Regions from separate parts of the Homo sapiens genome. Here region 1 is linked to region 2. Evidence: fine-mapped expression QTL. Tissue or cell type: fibroblasts. Region 2 holds a variant in brackets; the other region holds the start of a gene. All regions are shown on one strand. Distances are between the middles of the regions.

The links. PIP is the estimated chance that this variant, and not a neighbour inherited with it, causes the effect.
Region 1: HIF3A starts here. The variant in region 2 is fine-mapped to the expression of HIF3A in fibroblasts (GTEx, PIP 0.91).

What each region holds. Positions count from the first base shown.
Region 1 is chr19:46,293,365-46,301,540 of GRCh38, forward strand. It overlaps HIF3A (hypoxia inducible factor 3 subunit alpha), which reads left to right and starts at 3,678. Exons shown (of 15, transcript NM_152795.4): 1 at 3,678-3,738. The coding sequence starts at 3,713.
Region 2 is chr19:46,271,876-46,280,051 of GRCh38, forward strand. No RefSeq gene overlaps it. Among named protein-coding and RNA genes, the nearest start is that of HIF3A, 21 kb to the right of the region's middle. RefSeq lists an enhancer at 1-38. The variant C/T (reference allele first, on the strand shown) is at 4,478.

The DNA of each region.
Region 1 (8,176 bases), 21 kb after region 2:
CATGTATTTATTTATTTTACAGATGAGGTCTCACTCTGTTGCCCAGACTGGAGTGCAGTGGCACAATCATAGCTCATTGCAGCCTCCAGCTCCTGGGCTCAAGCAATCCTCCCGTCTCAGCCTCCCAAGTAACTGGGACTATAGGTGCACATCACCATGCCTGGCAAAGTTAAAAAAAAAAATTAAGAGATAGAGGCCGGGCCGGGCGCGGTGGCTCACGCCTGTAATCCCAGCACTTTGGGAGGCCGAGGCAGGTGGATCATGAGGTCAGGAGATCGAGACCATCCTGGCTAACAAGGTGAAACCCCGTCTCTACTAAAAATACAAAAAATTAGCCGGGCGCGGTAGCGGGCGCCTGTAGTCCCAGCTACTCGGGAGGCTGAGGCAGGAGAATGGCGTGAACCCGGGAAGCGGAGCTTGCAGTGAGCCGAGATTTCGCCACTGCAGTCCGCAGTCCAGCCTGGGCGACAGAGCGAGACTCCGTCTCAAAAAAAAAAAAAAAAAAAAAAAAAAAGAGATAGAGGCCGGGTGCAGTGGCTCATGCCTCTAATCCCAGCTCTTTGGGAGGTTGAGATGGGCGGATCACCTGAGGTCTGGATTTTGAGACCATTTTGGCCAACATGGTGAAACCCCATCTCTACTAAAAATACAAAAATTAGCCAGGCGTGATGTCAGATGCCTGTAATCCCAGCTACTAAGGAGGCCAAGGCAGGAGAATTGCTTGAACCTGGGAGGCAGAGGTTGCAGTGAGCCAAATCGCACCAATGAACTCCAGCCTAGGCGACAAGAGCAACACTCAGTCTCAAAAAATAAATAAATACATACATAAATAAAATAAAAATTAAGAGATGGGATCTTGCTATGTTGCCCAGGCTGGTCTCAAACTCCTGGCCTCAAACGATCCTCCCCCTTCAGCCTCCTGAGTCATTGAGATTACAGTTGAGAGCCACTGCACTCGGCTGTCCCCAACCCTCTCTCTGCTTGCCTCACTGTTATTCCTTCTTAAGTCTGCATCCAAATGCCCCTTCCACAATAAACCTTTCTGACAGCCCCGACAGGGTGGGTAAGGTGCTTCCACCAAGCTCCCACAGTTCCTGGCAGTTCAGACCACTCTACAATTTAATATTAAAAGGTCTTAAATTCCCACTTAACTTCAGTTCCAGGTACAAAACTTGTCTCTTCAAACAAGAACATATCCTTTAGCAAAAGTTGGAAATCATTTTAACGGACACATTTCCCTTATTGCCTTAGCTGCTGGGAACCTCTGAGCGAAGTTTAACGCTAACCTACATCGTAGAGAGACACCTGTTGCATCTCTGTGTGTAAAGTGTTAGTTCTATTTTAATGTTTGTTGAAATAGTGCCAGCTTTTCTTGGGCACTGTAAATCCCTCCGATTGGCTCTCTGCTGTGACTCCCTCATACCAAAATCAATGAGTTCTTCCACTGAATCTATCATCCAACTACTGCCCCCTCCAAACTCTTCCAACACACCCACTGGAACTCTCGTTGTCTTGTTAACAACCACTCCCCTTCCTCAGTTTCTCCCTTGAACATCTCTTCTACCCCATGTCCTTACCTAAACCCTAAGAAGCTCTAAGAACAATGCTTCCTCTGCAGCCCCTTCTACTATTTATTTATTTATTTATTTATTTAGAGACAGAGTCTTACTCTGTCACTCAGGCTGGAGTGCAATGGCATGATCTTGGCTCACTGCAACCTCTGCCTCCTGGGTTCAAGCGATTCTCCTGCCTCAGCCTCCCGAGTAGCTGGGATTACAAGGGTGTGCCACCACACCCGGCTAATTTTTGTATTTTTAGTAGAGATGGGGTTTCACCATGTTGGCCAGGCTGGTCTTGAACTCCTGACCTCAGGTGATCTGCCCGCCTCAGCCTCCCAAAGTGCTGGGATTACAGTCGTGAGCCACCATGGCCGGCCCCCCTTTATAATTCAGACTGCTCCTTTTCTAACATCCCACCTGCCTCTACACTGAGGGTTGAAAGCTGATTTCTCTATCAAGATTCTTTTGGGTGCAAGTATCTAAAATCCATTCAAACGAATCTAAGCACAAAGCAAATAAGGCAATAGTGAATGAAGCAATATTTGACAAAAGCAACAGCAAAAAAAAAAAAAAAAAAAAAAAAAAGCCCATTGTGGGTTTCATTTGAAAAATCCAAGAATTAAACTGGAGTTCAGGTATGGCTGGATCCAGGCACTCAAGTGCTGGTGTCAAAACTGCCTTTCACAATCGTTCATTTCTGCACAATCTCTTTTGCACTGAACCTCATCTCATAAAGCCTCTCCTCTCTTTGTGGCAGTGTGAGCCCCATCTGCTCCATCTGCCCAGCAATTCCAGCAGACATAGAAAATCCTCTTTCCTAATGGTTTCAGCAAATGTCTCAGGGTTGATTCTCATTGGGCTAAATTAGGTAACATGCCTTCCCTGAACCAATCACTGTGGCCAGGGAAGCAGACTCAACTGATTAGCCAGGTTTGGATCCTATGTCCATCCCTGGAGCTGGTGAAGGCAGAGCAGTGGCCAAGCCCTATTCAAATTAAATAGATGAAGAGGACAGAGAAGTGGTTTCCCAAAAGAAAACAGAGTGGGGAACTGGCGTGAGCCGGGGAGCCGTGTGGATTCCTGGAGGAAGAGTGTGCTAAGCTGTGGGAACAGCAAGTGCAAAGGCCCTAAGGTGAGCAACTTGCCTGGCAAGTTCAAGGTTCAACAAGGCCACTTCTGCTGTAGTATCCTCTTCCCTGCCAACCAAATCCAGAATAGTGGTCCAACACACACACACACACACACACACACACACACTCTGTTCCTTATCCAACTGTAATGCTTTCACCCTTGCTTGGTACCTTTGTACTTCTCCCTTCATAGTCGACTAGTTAAAAAAAAATACATTTCTCGGCTCTTTTTTGAAGTAGGTGTGATTGAGTTAAAACATATTTACTTGACATAAGCTTAATTATTCATCAATGGGAACCTGAAAAGGGAGTCAGAGAGGCCAAGAGGTTAGGGTGGAGTAGAGGGGGTAGGGAAGGTAAGCTGGGGTGCAGAGGGTGCAGACTGGAGGAATGGGGGCGAAGTGGGGTATGGGACTGGGGTGGCAGGGAGGGGCTGGGGAGAGAGAGAGAAGGGTAGGTGCCAGAGGGCCAAGGATTGTGGAACTGGGGTGGGGTTGGGAGTTGGGGGGTGGGGAGGAGATGTGGGGTACTCTGTGAATACCTTAGAAGGGATAGAGAAGGCAGGGCTAGGGGTTTGGAAGGGGTGGGATTGGAGGTCAGAGGGGCTCAACTGGGGTTAGGAAATGGAAAGGTGAGAAGAGGTGGGGGTTAGAGGCTGGGGACTGGGGTCCAGAGAGCAGAGTGAACTGAGTGGGTTCAGAAGAGTACTGGCGTTGGCACTTCAGAGGCTGGACTAGAGAAGGCGCGTTCAGCCGACGGTGCGGGATACACTGCCGAGGAAGTCCGCGGCGAGGGGCGTGGTTGGGGGGTGTGTATTACACGGTATCCCCCCCTTGCCTTTCCAAGTCTTTCCCTCTGGTTCCGCCTCCTTTTCAGGAGTGACATACCGTTGCCCAATCAGAGCCTCAGGCCTGGCGTGGCACAGCCAACCGCGCGGCGTGGGGAGGAGCTGGGGAGGGGGCTCGCAAGGCCGGGGAGGGGGCTAGGGGCCTCCGAGGGCTCCGGAGCGGCGACTGGCGAGCCATGGCGCTGGGGCTGCAGCGCGCAAGGTACTGAAGTTCGGGGGCAGGAGTTCTGGGAATTGGGGGGCTCTCCTCCTGGAGACCCCTGAGCTGGATTGTTGGGGGGGGTGGGGTTCGCGGGTGCGAGCCAAGAACGCCCCGGGGCGCGCAGTTGGAGGCACATCCCCACCGCACTCTCCACCCTTAGGGACTGCAGGGGTGGGGGATTCCCTACGTCTCTGGCTGCCCCGCCCCTCTGGCCAAGAGCGGCTTCGGGGTTCCCGATTTCTCGCTACCCAAGGCTCATTTACCCTCCTGGTTGGGGGTGGAACTTGGGATTCCTGATAAATTAGGGGTGATTGCATTTGAGCAGTCCCCAGGCTTCTGCGGGAGATATTCGCCCTCCACATATTGATCCCTCTGGCCTCTGAACCCCCCAAAATTGAGGGTATTCTTTGCCACCAGGTGCCTGGGATCCTAGGTGATATGGGATACCCCTAAATGGAGCCTTCCCACATATAGGGAGTCCCTTGGAATGGCATTCAGCTCCTGAGTTCAAGAGAGGAGAGATCTCCTCTAATAGTATGCTTCCTGACACAGTCTCCTAAACATTGGGTTTCCCTAGAAATGGGCAGAGGGGAGCCCCTTTCAGAAGCCGTCTGGGACCCTTCCCAAGAGACTTTTTGTATCCTTTCAAAAGCCAGAGTCACCCCCTTAAATAACAGGGAAACAAGCTGGACCCACTTCCCAAAGTCCAGCCCCTCATCTCACCCCTGCACCCCCATCCTGAGAGACAGGGGAGCCTCATCCAAGCTTTATTTTGGGGAGACTCCATGGCAGGGTGCTGTGAGCCTGCAGGCTGTGATGGGAACGCCCCCTGCCGCAGTACTCAGATGGGGTCATCCCGGGCAGAGGGTGGGTTTCTGGGTTCACTTGCCCAGCAGGTGCAGCTCTGCTGGAACACAGGGGAACCTGTGCCCTGGGGCCGCTGCCGGGGGGTTTTATCTGGCCATGTTCCCATGGGACCCTGGAAAATGTTCTAGGTCCTCAGCTTTCCCTGTCCAATGTGAGGCACCCAGTAAGCCTCACCCCCTTCCCTCCTCCCTGGCTTCTCAGGCCTGATTGGATCCATGCACACCCCATGTTTCTAACCGCCCCCATCCTCTCCCCTGTCCCCTACTCTATTCCAGGCCCTGGCTCTGGGCCTAACAAGGAACTCTATCCCACCCCTTTTGGGCCAGCTGTCGTTCCGCCCCTCTCAGCGCCCCCTCCTGGCTGGGTGGGGGCCCCTCTTGGCTGAGCTCGGGTGCCCCCCCTCCCCACCCAAGGCCGGCCCTTTCCTGTGGAGTCATCTCACCGCCGTGCGCACCCACTCGTAACTCGCACCCGGGTCCTGGCTGCACCGCATCCCCTCCTGCACCCCCTGGATGGCCCTTCAGCCAACGGGGGCCTGGGCGATGGTGAGTGGGCCCCCAACACCTCCTTTCCCCCTTCCCTTCCTCTAGCTGGGGCTGGCTGCCATCCCACTGTGGCCAAGGATGCTCTTGGGAAGTCCCTGGTGGGTACGGCTTGCAGCCCAGAGTGCCCAGTGAGGTAGTATTCCCGGAGAAGATAGGATTTTGGGGACCAGCACCCTACCAGATTACCATGTCCTTGAGAACAGGCAGAGTCGGGGGGCAGAGAGACTCCCCCAGACCCCCATGCCAAGTCCCTTTGCAAACCCAAACCCTGCCTCTGGTCTCTCAGGACACCTCTCTGCAATGCCAAAAGGCATCCTTGCCCAGCTACAACCTAAACCCCCACCCACCAAATCCTCTGTGCTTTTCGTAAGACGCCCCCCCCCAATACCCAGCTGGGTGTCAGAATAGAAAAGCCCAGAAGTAGCCCTGAATGTGGGCAGGGACTGCCTGCTTTTATTATGCCTTCCTCATGGGTGGCAAATTCTTCAGGGCAGGGAAGAGGTGAACTTCTCTCCTTCCTGGTTGGAGGGGGGCACTGGGCCCCAACCCCCATTCTCAGGCCTCACCCTGAGCCCGCCAGGCCCTGGCCCCACCCCCTGTTCTTGGCTGGAACACGGAGGAAGGGTGGCAGGGTTCCAGCTGCACGTCCCAAGCTGGGCAGAGTGCCAGGGGGCTGGACCAGGGCTGGGCATGGGGCCAGCTGGGGCGATCTGGAGGCAGCAGGGGTGTGACGGGGGAAGGGACCGAGGCTGCTAGGCAAAAGAGGGGTGGGGCAGGGGCCTCTTGGGTGGGGGCCACACCTGCCAAGAGCACAGGGCCCAAAGACAGGGTTCAAATCCCATCTCACCCACTTCCTGGTGGTGTGGAATTGTGTCAGTGACTGCCGCTCTGAGCCTCACTTTCAGATCCTGGAAATACGGGCAGGCCGGGTGCGGTGGCTCAGGCCTGTTATTCCAGCACTTTGGGAGGCTGAGGTGGGCGGATTGCTTGAGTTCAAGACCAGCCTGGGCAACATGGCAAAATCTCATCTATACTAGAAGTAAGCAAATTAGCCAGGCATGGTGGTGAGTGTCTGTAGTCCCAGCTACTCAGGAGGCTGAGGTGGGAGGATGGCTTGAGCCTGAGGCAGAGGTTGTAATGAGCCAAGATCAGGCCACTGCACTCCAGCCTGGACAACACAGCCGGACCTTGTCGCAAAAAAAAAAAAAATAGAAAAATAGAAAAAAAAAAGAAAACTGGGTATCACACTCCCTTTCCACCACCCCAGATCAAGATGAGGAGCCAGTAGTGAGGAAGCAGACGGTGGGGGGCGGGACACCCAACAGGTGTGCCACAAACTGAGCTCAAGTCAGAGTAGACAGACCTGGCTTGAATCCTGTCTCTGCTACTAAAAGCTGTGTGGCTTCAGTTTCATCACCTCTTTGGGCCTGCTTCCTCATCCGGAAAATGGGGAAAGTCATTGCAGGAACATGGTCGGATTCACTGAGAAGTGGTTGAACATAGTTCAGTGTCAATGGAGGGCGCTGGGTTACTTGGGCTGGGGATGCCATTGCTCCAAATCTCAGTTTCTGCCTCTTTAAAAGGAGAGATCACTTCTCCTGCTCAATAGGGTAGTAGTAAGGACTTAATGGGTTCTCTAGCTCCGTGAGTGTTCAACACACCAATGCTATCATTATTACAGTATCACTGTTATTTAATCCTCCTTTTAAGATGCTTGTGTAAAAACCATGTATGTAATTGCATGCACACACCACACTATGGGGCGTGTAGAGTAATCCACAGGTTACTGTAAAGCCCAAGAAGCTCCTAAGCCCATGCTTTCCATCTCTGATACGCACAGAGGGAGAACAGTAAGTCTAACCTTGGCCGGGCGCGGTGGCTCATGCCTGTAATCCCAACATTTTGGGAGTCCGAGGCAGACAGATCACCTGAGGTCAGGAGTTCGAGACCAGCCTGGCCAACATAGTGAAACCCTGTCTCTACTAAAAATACAAAAATTACCCAGGCATGGTGGCAGGAGCCTGTAATCCCAGCTACTCAGGAAGCTGAGGCAGGAGAATCGCTTGAAACTGGGAGGCAGAGGTGACAGTGAGCCAAGATCAAGCCACTGCACTCCAGCCTGGGCAACAGAGCAAGATTACGTTCACACAGCTTATAAGCAGTCACACAGCTTGTAAGTAGTGGAGCTTGTAAGTAGTAGCTTATAAGTAGTGGAGTTGATAAGTAGTAGAGTCAGGATTGGAACCCTGAGCCAGAGGAACTAGCCCCCAGTCTGTGTAATGGGAAAGACCCACACTTCCCAGTAGAACATCCAGAGGGCAGGCTGGGAGCTGGAAGGAGGGTCCCTCCGCAGCCACCAGCTGGCTCCTTCTATGGAAGAAGCAGCCCAGCCACAGAGGATTACAGAGCCCAGCTGCCTGGGAGGTGGGGCACTGGCCCCACCTCCCTGCCAGTTCCCACTCCCTGTTCCCTGTCGGGCCCCCAGCTCCGTGAGGCCCTCTCGCCCCCACCCTCTGGGCAGGAAGACAAACAGGGCTGGAACAGAACAGGACGGAATGTCCTCTCAGGCAGGCAGGACTGAGGCCCCTGCCCCCACCAGCCAGGAAGGAGGGGACGGGGACAGGGGCCGTATCTCCCCTGCTCCAACCCTCCATCCAAACTGCCCCCTTCTGTGCCTCCCTCCCTGCTGTACTGAGGATTTTATTTTCCTTCTGTCTCCAGACAGGAAAATATCCCCTTGCCCTGGGGGGTGGGGCCGCAGGTCTCTTGCCTGAGGCTGGGGTTGATGCCACCCCAGAAGCACCCTCTGCTCTTGAATTTAAGAAGGGACAGTGTCCCCTCCTAGAGGTTCTGCTTCCCTCGGATGGGTCCCAAGGAGGGGATGAGAAAAAGCCTGAAGACTGGAAACTCACCGCCCAGATTCAAATCCCAGCTCAGCCAGTTGTTGGCTTTGGGGCTTCTTGGGCAAGGACTTCACCTTTCAGAAGCTGTTTCCCCACTGTAAAGTGGAAGTTTAAAATGCCCCC
Region 2 (8,176 bases):
CTTTACTTTAGCTGTAATGCCTTCAGGATCTGTCATAGCCTGGGAGACCAGATCGTGCACTTCCTGGCCAATGACCTGGACATTTCTTCCAAACGCAGGACTCCTCAAGTGGAAAATCTTTGTTGTGAAGCACCCTTTGAGGTTTGCCAAGATTTTCTTTCAGCTCTGAATCATAGTCTGAGTATTTTTCTGCCCACCTCAGCTTCTCTCTGTCAAGCAAAACTGACATATCTGGAAAGTAAGAAAATAAACCAGGCCACATGCAGTGGCCCATGCCTGTAATCTCAGCACTTTGGAAGGCCAAGGCCAGAGGATCATTTGAGTCCCAGGGTTTGAGACGACCCTGGGCAACACAGGAAGACCCTATCTCTACAAAAAATGTTAAAAGTTAACCAGGCGTGGTCAAGTGTGCCTGTGGTCCCAGCTGCTTGGGAGGCTGAGGTGGGAGGATCGCTTGAGCCTGGGAGTTGAGGACCAGCCCAGCCTGGGAAACAGCGAGACCCTGTCTCCACAACAAACAAAATAAGTTGGGTGTAGTGGCACACACCTGTAGTCTCAGCTACTTGGGAGGCTGAGGTTGGAGAATCGCTTGAGCCTGGGAGATCAAGGCTGCATAGAGCCAAGATTGCACCACTGAGCTCCAACCTGGGTGACAGAGCAAGACCCTGTCTCAAAAAAAAAGAAGAGGAAGAGGAAGAAGAGAGAAAGAAAGAAAGAAGGAAAGAAAGAAAGAGAGAAAGAGAGAAGGAGAGGGGAGGGGAGGGGAGGGAGAAGAAGAAAGTTCCCTCATCTATCAAGAAACTGGACCTGCCAAAGAGTAACACAGTTGCCTTCCCTGAAATTTCCTTAACCCTAGAAGATTAAAATTCACATCACAAGGCCGGGTGCGGTGGCTCATGCTGGTAATCCCACACTTTGGAAGGCCGAGGTGGGTGGATCGCCTGAGGTCAGGAGTTCAAGACTAGCCTGGCCAACATGGTGAAACCCCGTGTCTACTAAAAATACAAAAATTAGCCAGGCGTGGTGGCATGCGCCTGTAGTCCCAGCTACTCGGGAGGCTGAGGCAGGAGAATCACTTGAACCCAGGAGGCGGAGGCTGCAGTGAGCTGAGATCGCACTGGAGATTGGACTCCAGCTTTGGCAACAAGAACAAAACTCTGTCTCAAAAAAAAAAAAAAGAGAAAGAAAAACTTACATCACAGAGAAAAAGGCTGAAAATAAAACACCACAACTGAAAGCCAGGCAAACTGCATCCCAAACCACTGTCTGCTCTCCATCTTATTCAACTGGCAAAGAAAATTATTTACTAACTTTCACTCGCATCCGTGTGAAGACACCACCAAACAGGCTTTGTGTGAGCAACAAGGCTGTTTATTTCACCTGGGTGCAGGCGGGCTGAGTCTGAAAAGAGAGTCAGCGAATGCAGATAGGAGTGGGGCTGTTTTATAAGATTTGGGTATGTAAAGGAAAATTACAGTCAAAGGGGGAGGTTGTTCTCTGGCTGGCAGGAGTTGGGGGTCACAAGGTGCTCAATAGGGGAGCTTTTGAGCCAGGATGAGCCAGGAGAAGGAGTTTCACAAGATAATGTCATCAGTTAAGGCAGGAACAGGCCATTTTCATTTCTTTTGTGGTGGAATGTCATCAGTTAAGGCAGGAACCGGCCATCTGGATGTGTACGTGCAGGTCACAGGGGATATGATGGCTTAGCTTGGGCTCAGAGGCATGACATTTCTGTCTTCTTATATTAATAAGAAAAATAAAACGAAATAGGGTTGAAGTGTTGGGGCAGTGAAAATTTTGGGGGGTGGTATGGAGAGATAATGGGCGATGTTTCTCAGGGCTGCTTTGAGCAGGATTGGGGTGGCATGGGAACCTAGAGTGGGAGAGATTAAGCTGAAGGAAGATTTTTGTGGTAACAGTTGATATTGTGGGGTTGTTAGAAGAAACATTTGTCATATAGAATTATTGGTGATGGCCTGGGTACGGTTTTGTATGAATTGAAAAAAGAACGGAATAAGACAAGGAGAAAAACAGGTATTAAAGGACTAAGAATTGGGAGGACCTAGGACATCCAATTAGAGAGTGCCTAAGGAGGTTCAGCATAGCCCTGCCAGCAAAGATTATTTGTTTACTTTAAGAGGGAGTTAAGAGTGGCAGTTTGGGGATAGCACCAGGAGATATCCGCTGCGATGGTTTGGAGAAACAGTGTAAACCAGCAGTGTAAACAAGAGCAGGGCATTTATGAGTAGTTGAGAACGGTGAGTAGGAGTTGACTAGACAGAAGATAGTAAGGATGACAAGTTTTTTGGGGCGCAGTCCAAGTTGGTCTGGTGTCTGGAATGAGACTGGGGCCTAATAAAAAGGATTGTCCATACAGGAGTTCAAATGGGCTGTAACCTGCAGCATTTCGAAGACAGGCCCGAATTCTGAGAAGGGAAAGTGATAAAAGTACTGTCCAGTCCTTTTTAAGTTGGTGACTGAGTTTGGTGAGGTGTGTTTTTAAAAGACCATCAGTTCACTGAATACTAAGAGCCTGAGAAACTCCTTGGGTGATTTGACTAATAAAGGCCGGTCTGTTATAGGACTGTATAGAGGTGGGAAGGCCAAACCAAGGAATTATGTCTGACAGAAGGGAAGAAATGACCGTGGTGGCCTTCTCAGACCCTGTGGTAAAGGCATCTACCCATCCAGTGAAAGTGTCTACCCAGACCAAGACGTATTTTAGTTTCCTGACTCGGGGCATGTTGAGTAAAGCTAATTTGCCAGTCCTGGGTGGGGGCAAATCCTCAAGCTTGATGTGTAGGGAAGGGAGGGGGCCTGAATAATCCCTGAGGAGTAGTAGAACAGCAGATGGAACACTGAGAAGTGATTTCCTTGAGGATAGATTTCCACGATGGAAAGGAAATGAGAGGTTCTAAGAGGCAGGCTAGTGGCTTGTACTATAGCATAGCCTGCCTTTGCCGGTGTGTGGCGATTAGGCCTGGTGGAACTGCCATCAATAAACCAAGTGTGACCAGGGTGAGGAACAGGAAAGAAGAAATATGGGGAAATGGGGTGAATGTCAGGTGGATCAGAGAGATGCAGTCATGGGGGTCAGGTGTGGTATCAGGAATAATGTGGGAGGCCGGATTGAAGTCCGGGCCAGGAACAACGGTAATTGTGGGAGACTCAACAAAGAGTGAGTACAGCTGAAGGAGCCGGGGAGCAGAAAGTATATGTGTCAGGTGTGAGGAAGAAAATAGATTTTGGAAATTATGAGAACCATAGAGAGTGAGATGAGCAGAGTTTGTGATTTTGAGGGTCTCTAAAAGTATTAGGGTGGCAGTGGCCGCCACATGCAGACATGAGGGCTAGGCAAAACAGTAAGGTCAAGTTGTTTGGATAAAAAGGGTACAGGACGCGGTCCCAATTCTCGTGTAAGAATTCCGACTGCACAGCCCTGTACTTCGGCTGTGTGTAATGAAAAGGGTTGGGATGAGTCAGGGAGAGCTAGGGTAGGAGCAGTCTCTAAAGCTGTCTTCAAGGAACGGAAAGAGGAGTGGGGAAAGGATTTAGGATCTATGGGGTCAGCTAGGTTTCCTTTTGTGAGTTTATATAATGGTTTTGTTAGGATGGCAAAACCAGGTATCTAAAGTCAAAAGTATCCAACCATGCCTAGGAAGGAAAGGAGTTGTTTTGTAGAAGGTGTTGGGGTTTGAGAGATCAGTCGGACACGATTGGCAGGGAGAGCATGGGTGTTTTTATGAGAATTATGCCAAGATAGGTAACAGATGAGGAAGAAATTTGGGCTTAACTGAAGTAATGGGGGCTGTCTGTGAAGCCTTGCGGCAGTACAGCCCAGGTAATTTGCTGAGCCTGATGGGTGTCAGGGTCAGTCCAAGTGAAAGCGAAGAGAGGCTGGGATGAAGGGTGCAAAGGAAGAGTAAAGAAAGCATGTTTGAGATCCAGAATAATGGGTTGTGGAGGGAGGTATTGAGGATAGGAGAGTATATGGGTTTGGCACCATGGGGTGGATAGGCAAAACAATTTGGTTGATAAAGCACAGATCCTGAACTAACCTGTAAGCCTTGTCTGGTTTTAGGACAGGTGAAATGGGGGAATTGTAAGGGGAGTTTATAGGCTTTAAAAGGCCATGCTGTAGCAGGAGAGTGATAACAGGCTTTAATCCTTTCAAAGCGTGCTGTGGGATGGGATATTGGCATTAAGTGGGGTAAGGGTGATTAGGTTTTAATGGGATGGTAAGGGGTGCATGATGGGTCGCTAAGGAGGGAGGAGAGGTGTCCTATACTTGTGGGTTAAGGTGGGGGGATACAAGGGGAGGATGTGAAGGAGGCTTTGAACTGGGGAAAAGGGCAGCAATGAGGTGTGGCTGTAGCCCAGGAATAGTCAGGGAAGCAGATAATTTAGTTAAAGTGTCTCGGCCTAATAAGGGAACTGGGCAGGTGGAGATAACTAAAAGGAGTGCTTTAAAGAGTAT[C/T]GTCTAAGTTGGCACCAGAGTTGGGGAGTTTTAAGAGGTTTAGAAGCCTGGCTGTCAATACCCACAACAGTTATGGAAGCAAGGGAAACAGGCCCTTGGAAAGAAGGTAATGTGGAGTGGGTGGCCTCTGTATTGATTAAGAAGGGGACGGACTTACGGTGCACTGTGAGAGTTACCTAGAGCATCTGTGACGGTCCAGGAGGCTTCTGAGATGATCGGGCAGTGTCAGTCTTCAGCTGCTAAGCCGAGAAGATCTGGGAAGGAGTCAGTCAGAGATCCTTGGGCCAGAGTTCTAGGGGCTCTGGAAGTGGCTGCCAGGTGAGTTGAACAGTCCGATTTTCAGTGGGGTCCCACACAGATGGAACAGAGCTTGGGAGGAATCCCAGGCTGTGGGCATTCCTTTGCCCAGTGGCCAAATTTCCAGCACTTGTAGCAAGTTCCTGGGGGAGGAGGTTCTGGAGGAACCCCTGGCTGCTGCGGTTCAGGCATTTGGAGTTCTTGCGTGCTGGAGATGTGGCTGGGGTTTCTCTCACAGTGGAGGTAAGGAATTGCAACTCAGAAATATATTGTTACTTAGCTGCCTATACTTTATTATTGTACACATTGAAGGCGAGGCTAATTAAGTCCTGTTGCGGGGTTTGAGGGCCGGAATTTAATTTTTGGAGTTTTATTTAATGTCAGGAGCAGACTGGGTAATAAAATGTATATTGAGAATAAGACGGCCTCTTGACCTTCTAGGGTCTAGGGCTGTAAAGCATCTCAGGGTTGCTGTCAAACGAGCCATGAACTGGGCTGGGTTTTTATATTTCATGAAAAAGAGCCTAAACGCTATCCAATTTGGGATAAAGAAAAAGGAACATTAACCTGGACTATGCCTTTAGCTCCAGCCACCTTTTTAAGAGGAAATTGCTGGGCAGGTGGGGGAGGGCTAGTCACAGAACAAAACTGTAAGCCGGACCAGGTGTGAGGAGGGGAGGTGATAAAAGGATTGTAGGGTAGGGGAGCAGAGGCTGAGGAAGAATTGGGACCTAGCTCAGCCTGGTGAGGAGCAGCCTTGGGGAGAAGGGGAGAGGTCAGATGGGTCTGTAGAAAAGGAAGATTGGAAAGAGGAAAGACTCAGCAATGCTTGGGGTTGGGACTGAGGGACAGGCAGCAGGGAAAGAAGGAAGATTTAGGACGAGTTGCATTGGGAACAGAGACTAGGGAGGGACCGATGTGTAAAAGAATGCCTGGACATCAGGCACCTCAGACCGTTTGCCCATTTTACGGCAAGAATTATTTAGATCTTGTAGGATGGAAAAATCGAAAGTGCTGTTTTCTGGCCATTTAGAGCCATTGTCAAGTTGGTATTGGGGCCAAGTGGTGTTGCAGAAGAAAACAAGGGGTTTAGGTTTTAGGTCAGGTGTGAGTTGAAGAGGTTTTAAGTTTTTGAGAACACAGGCTCAGGGAGAAGAGGGAGGAATGGAGGGTGGAAGGTAGCCCATAGTGAAGGAGGCAAGCCCAGAGAAAAGAGAGAGTAGAGACACAGAAGGGGTGGGGGGTGATTACCCCCCAGGAAAGTGGAGAAGGGGTAGAGACATGGAGAGAAGGGGTTGGGGGGTTCTTGCCCCCCAAAAAAGTGGTACTTGCTGCTAAGGGTGAAGGACCAAGGCAGGCATCCCCACATGGTCAGACACCTCTGAAATGTGGGTGAATAATCAGGCAGGCGTCCCCACACAATTAAACACCAAGGGAAGACTGTCTTCCCGAGTCTGTGACTGGTGCCGGAGTTTTGGGTTCACGGATAAAACGCGTCTCCTTTGTCTCTACCAGAAAAGGAAAGGAACTGAAATTAAGAGAAGGGAGAGATTGAAGTGTGAAGCCAAGATTGAAAGGAGAAAGAGGTTGAGGGATAGTGAGAGGGGTTGGAGAAGAGAGTAAAAAGAGACCGCTTACCTGATTTAAAATTGATGAGATGTTCCTTGGGCTGGTCAGTCTGAGGACCTGAGGTCATAGGTGGATCTTTCTCGCGGGACAAAGAGCAGGAGGACAGGGGATTGATCTCCCAAGGGAGGTCCCCCGATCGGAGTCATGGCACCAAAATATTTCACTCGCGTCCGTGTGAAGAGACCACCAAACAGGCTTTGTGTGAGCAACAGGGCTGTTTACTTCACCTGGGTGCAGGCGGGCTGAGTCGGAAAAGAGAGTCAGGGAACGGAGATAGGGGTGGGGCCGTTTTACAAGATTTGGGTATGTAAAGGAAAATTACAGTCAAAGGGGGAGGTTGTTCTCTGGCTGGCAGGGGTGGGGGTCACAAGGTGCTCAGTAGGGGAGCTTTTGAGCCAGGATGAGCCAAGAGAAGGAATTTCCCAAGATAATGTCATCAGTTAAGGCAGAAACAGGCCATTTTCACTTCTTTTGTGGTGGAATGTCATCAGTTAAGGCAGGAACCCGCCATCTGGATGTGTACGTGCAGGTCACAGGGGATATGATGGCTTAGCTTGGGCTCAGAGGCCTGACACTAACCATTGTCTGAGCATTAGGGCCATTCATTTCCCCCTAAAAATCACTGAATATCACGCAAATTGCCATATTTCCCCCATGTCCCCTTCCCCTATGAAAAAGGCTAAGAAGTATCTGTACCCCATTGGGTTATTGGGTAATCAGTCTCCTGTGAGTCCCCTGGGCAATGCATGTTAAAAATACATTTATATGCTGCCTTCTTCTACTAGTCTGCCTTTTGTCACTTCATTTTCAGTGAACCTTCAGAGGGTGACTGAGGATGTGTTCCCTCTTTGCCCCTACACAGCCAAAGTGGTTAACATCTCCCCCGAAATCCTTTACAGGCATACAAAAATCATATTACAAACCCTCCATTCCATCCCCAGTTCATACCCCAGCCACCTCCTCTATCTGACCCTCACACATCAATCTGCCTGAATCACTCAGGGCCAGGTACTGGACCACTGAAGACCAGCCGCGCATTCTTGAGTCTCTGACATCATTCAAAGCGGCCAATCCTGAGCTGTTTCCCCTTCCCTGCCTTGCCTTTCCCATGGAAACCGCAATAAAGGCCCTGGCCTAGGCTTTCCCTCTCTCTCCCACCTGCTGACCGAACCTGGTGCTTTCCCCTGCATGGCATGGCATGCGCCCGTCTCTCAGGAAGTGTAGGTAATCAATTCTTTCAAAGGCATCAACTTCATGTTGTCACTCAGTCACTTCCAGAAGATTAAATCTCATAAAGGCCGGGTGCAGTGGCTTATGTCTGTAATCCCAGCACTTTGGGAGGCCGAGGTGGGTGGATCACTCCTGAGGTCAGGAGTTCGAGACCAGCCTGGCCAACATGGCAAAGCCCCGTCGCTACTAAAAATACAAAAATTATCCAGGCGTGGTGGCACGCACCTGTAATCCCAGCCGCTCGGGATGCTCAGGCAGGAAAATCGCTTGAACCCAGGAGACAGAGGTTGCAGTGAGCTGAGATCATGCCACTGCACTCAGCCTGGAGCTAGACTCCGTGTCAAAATAAATAAATAAATACATCTCATGAGAAGAACTGAGACAACTCCCACCTTTCTCTCAGCATCTGCTCCCTGTAGGAGCCAAGCTGATCCAAGAGATTGATCCAATAAGTAATCATATTGAGGATAACGGAAACCCGGGTTAAAACCATAAAGGCCAGGCCAGGTGCAGTAGCTCACACCTGTAGCACTTTGGTAGGCT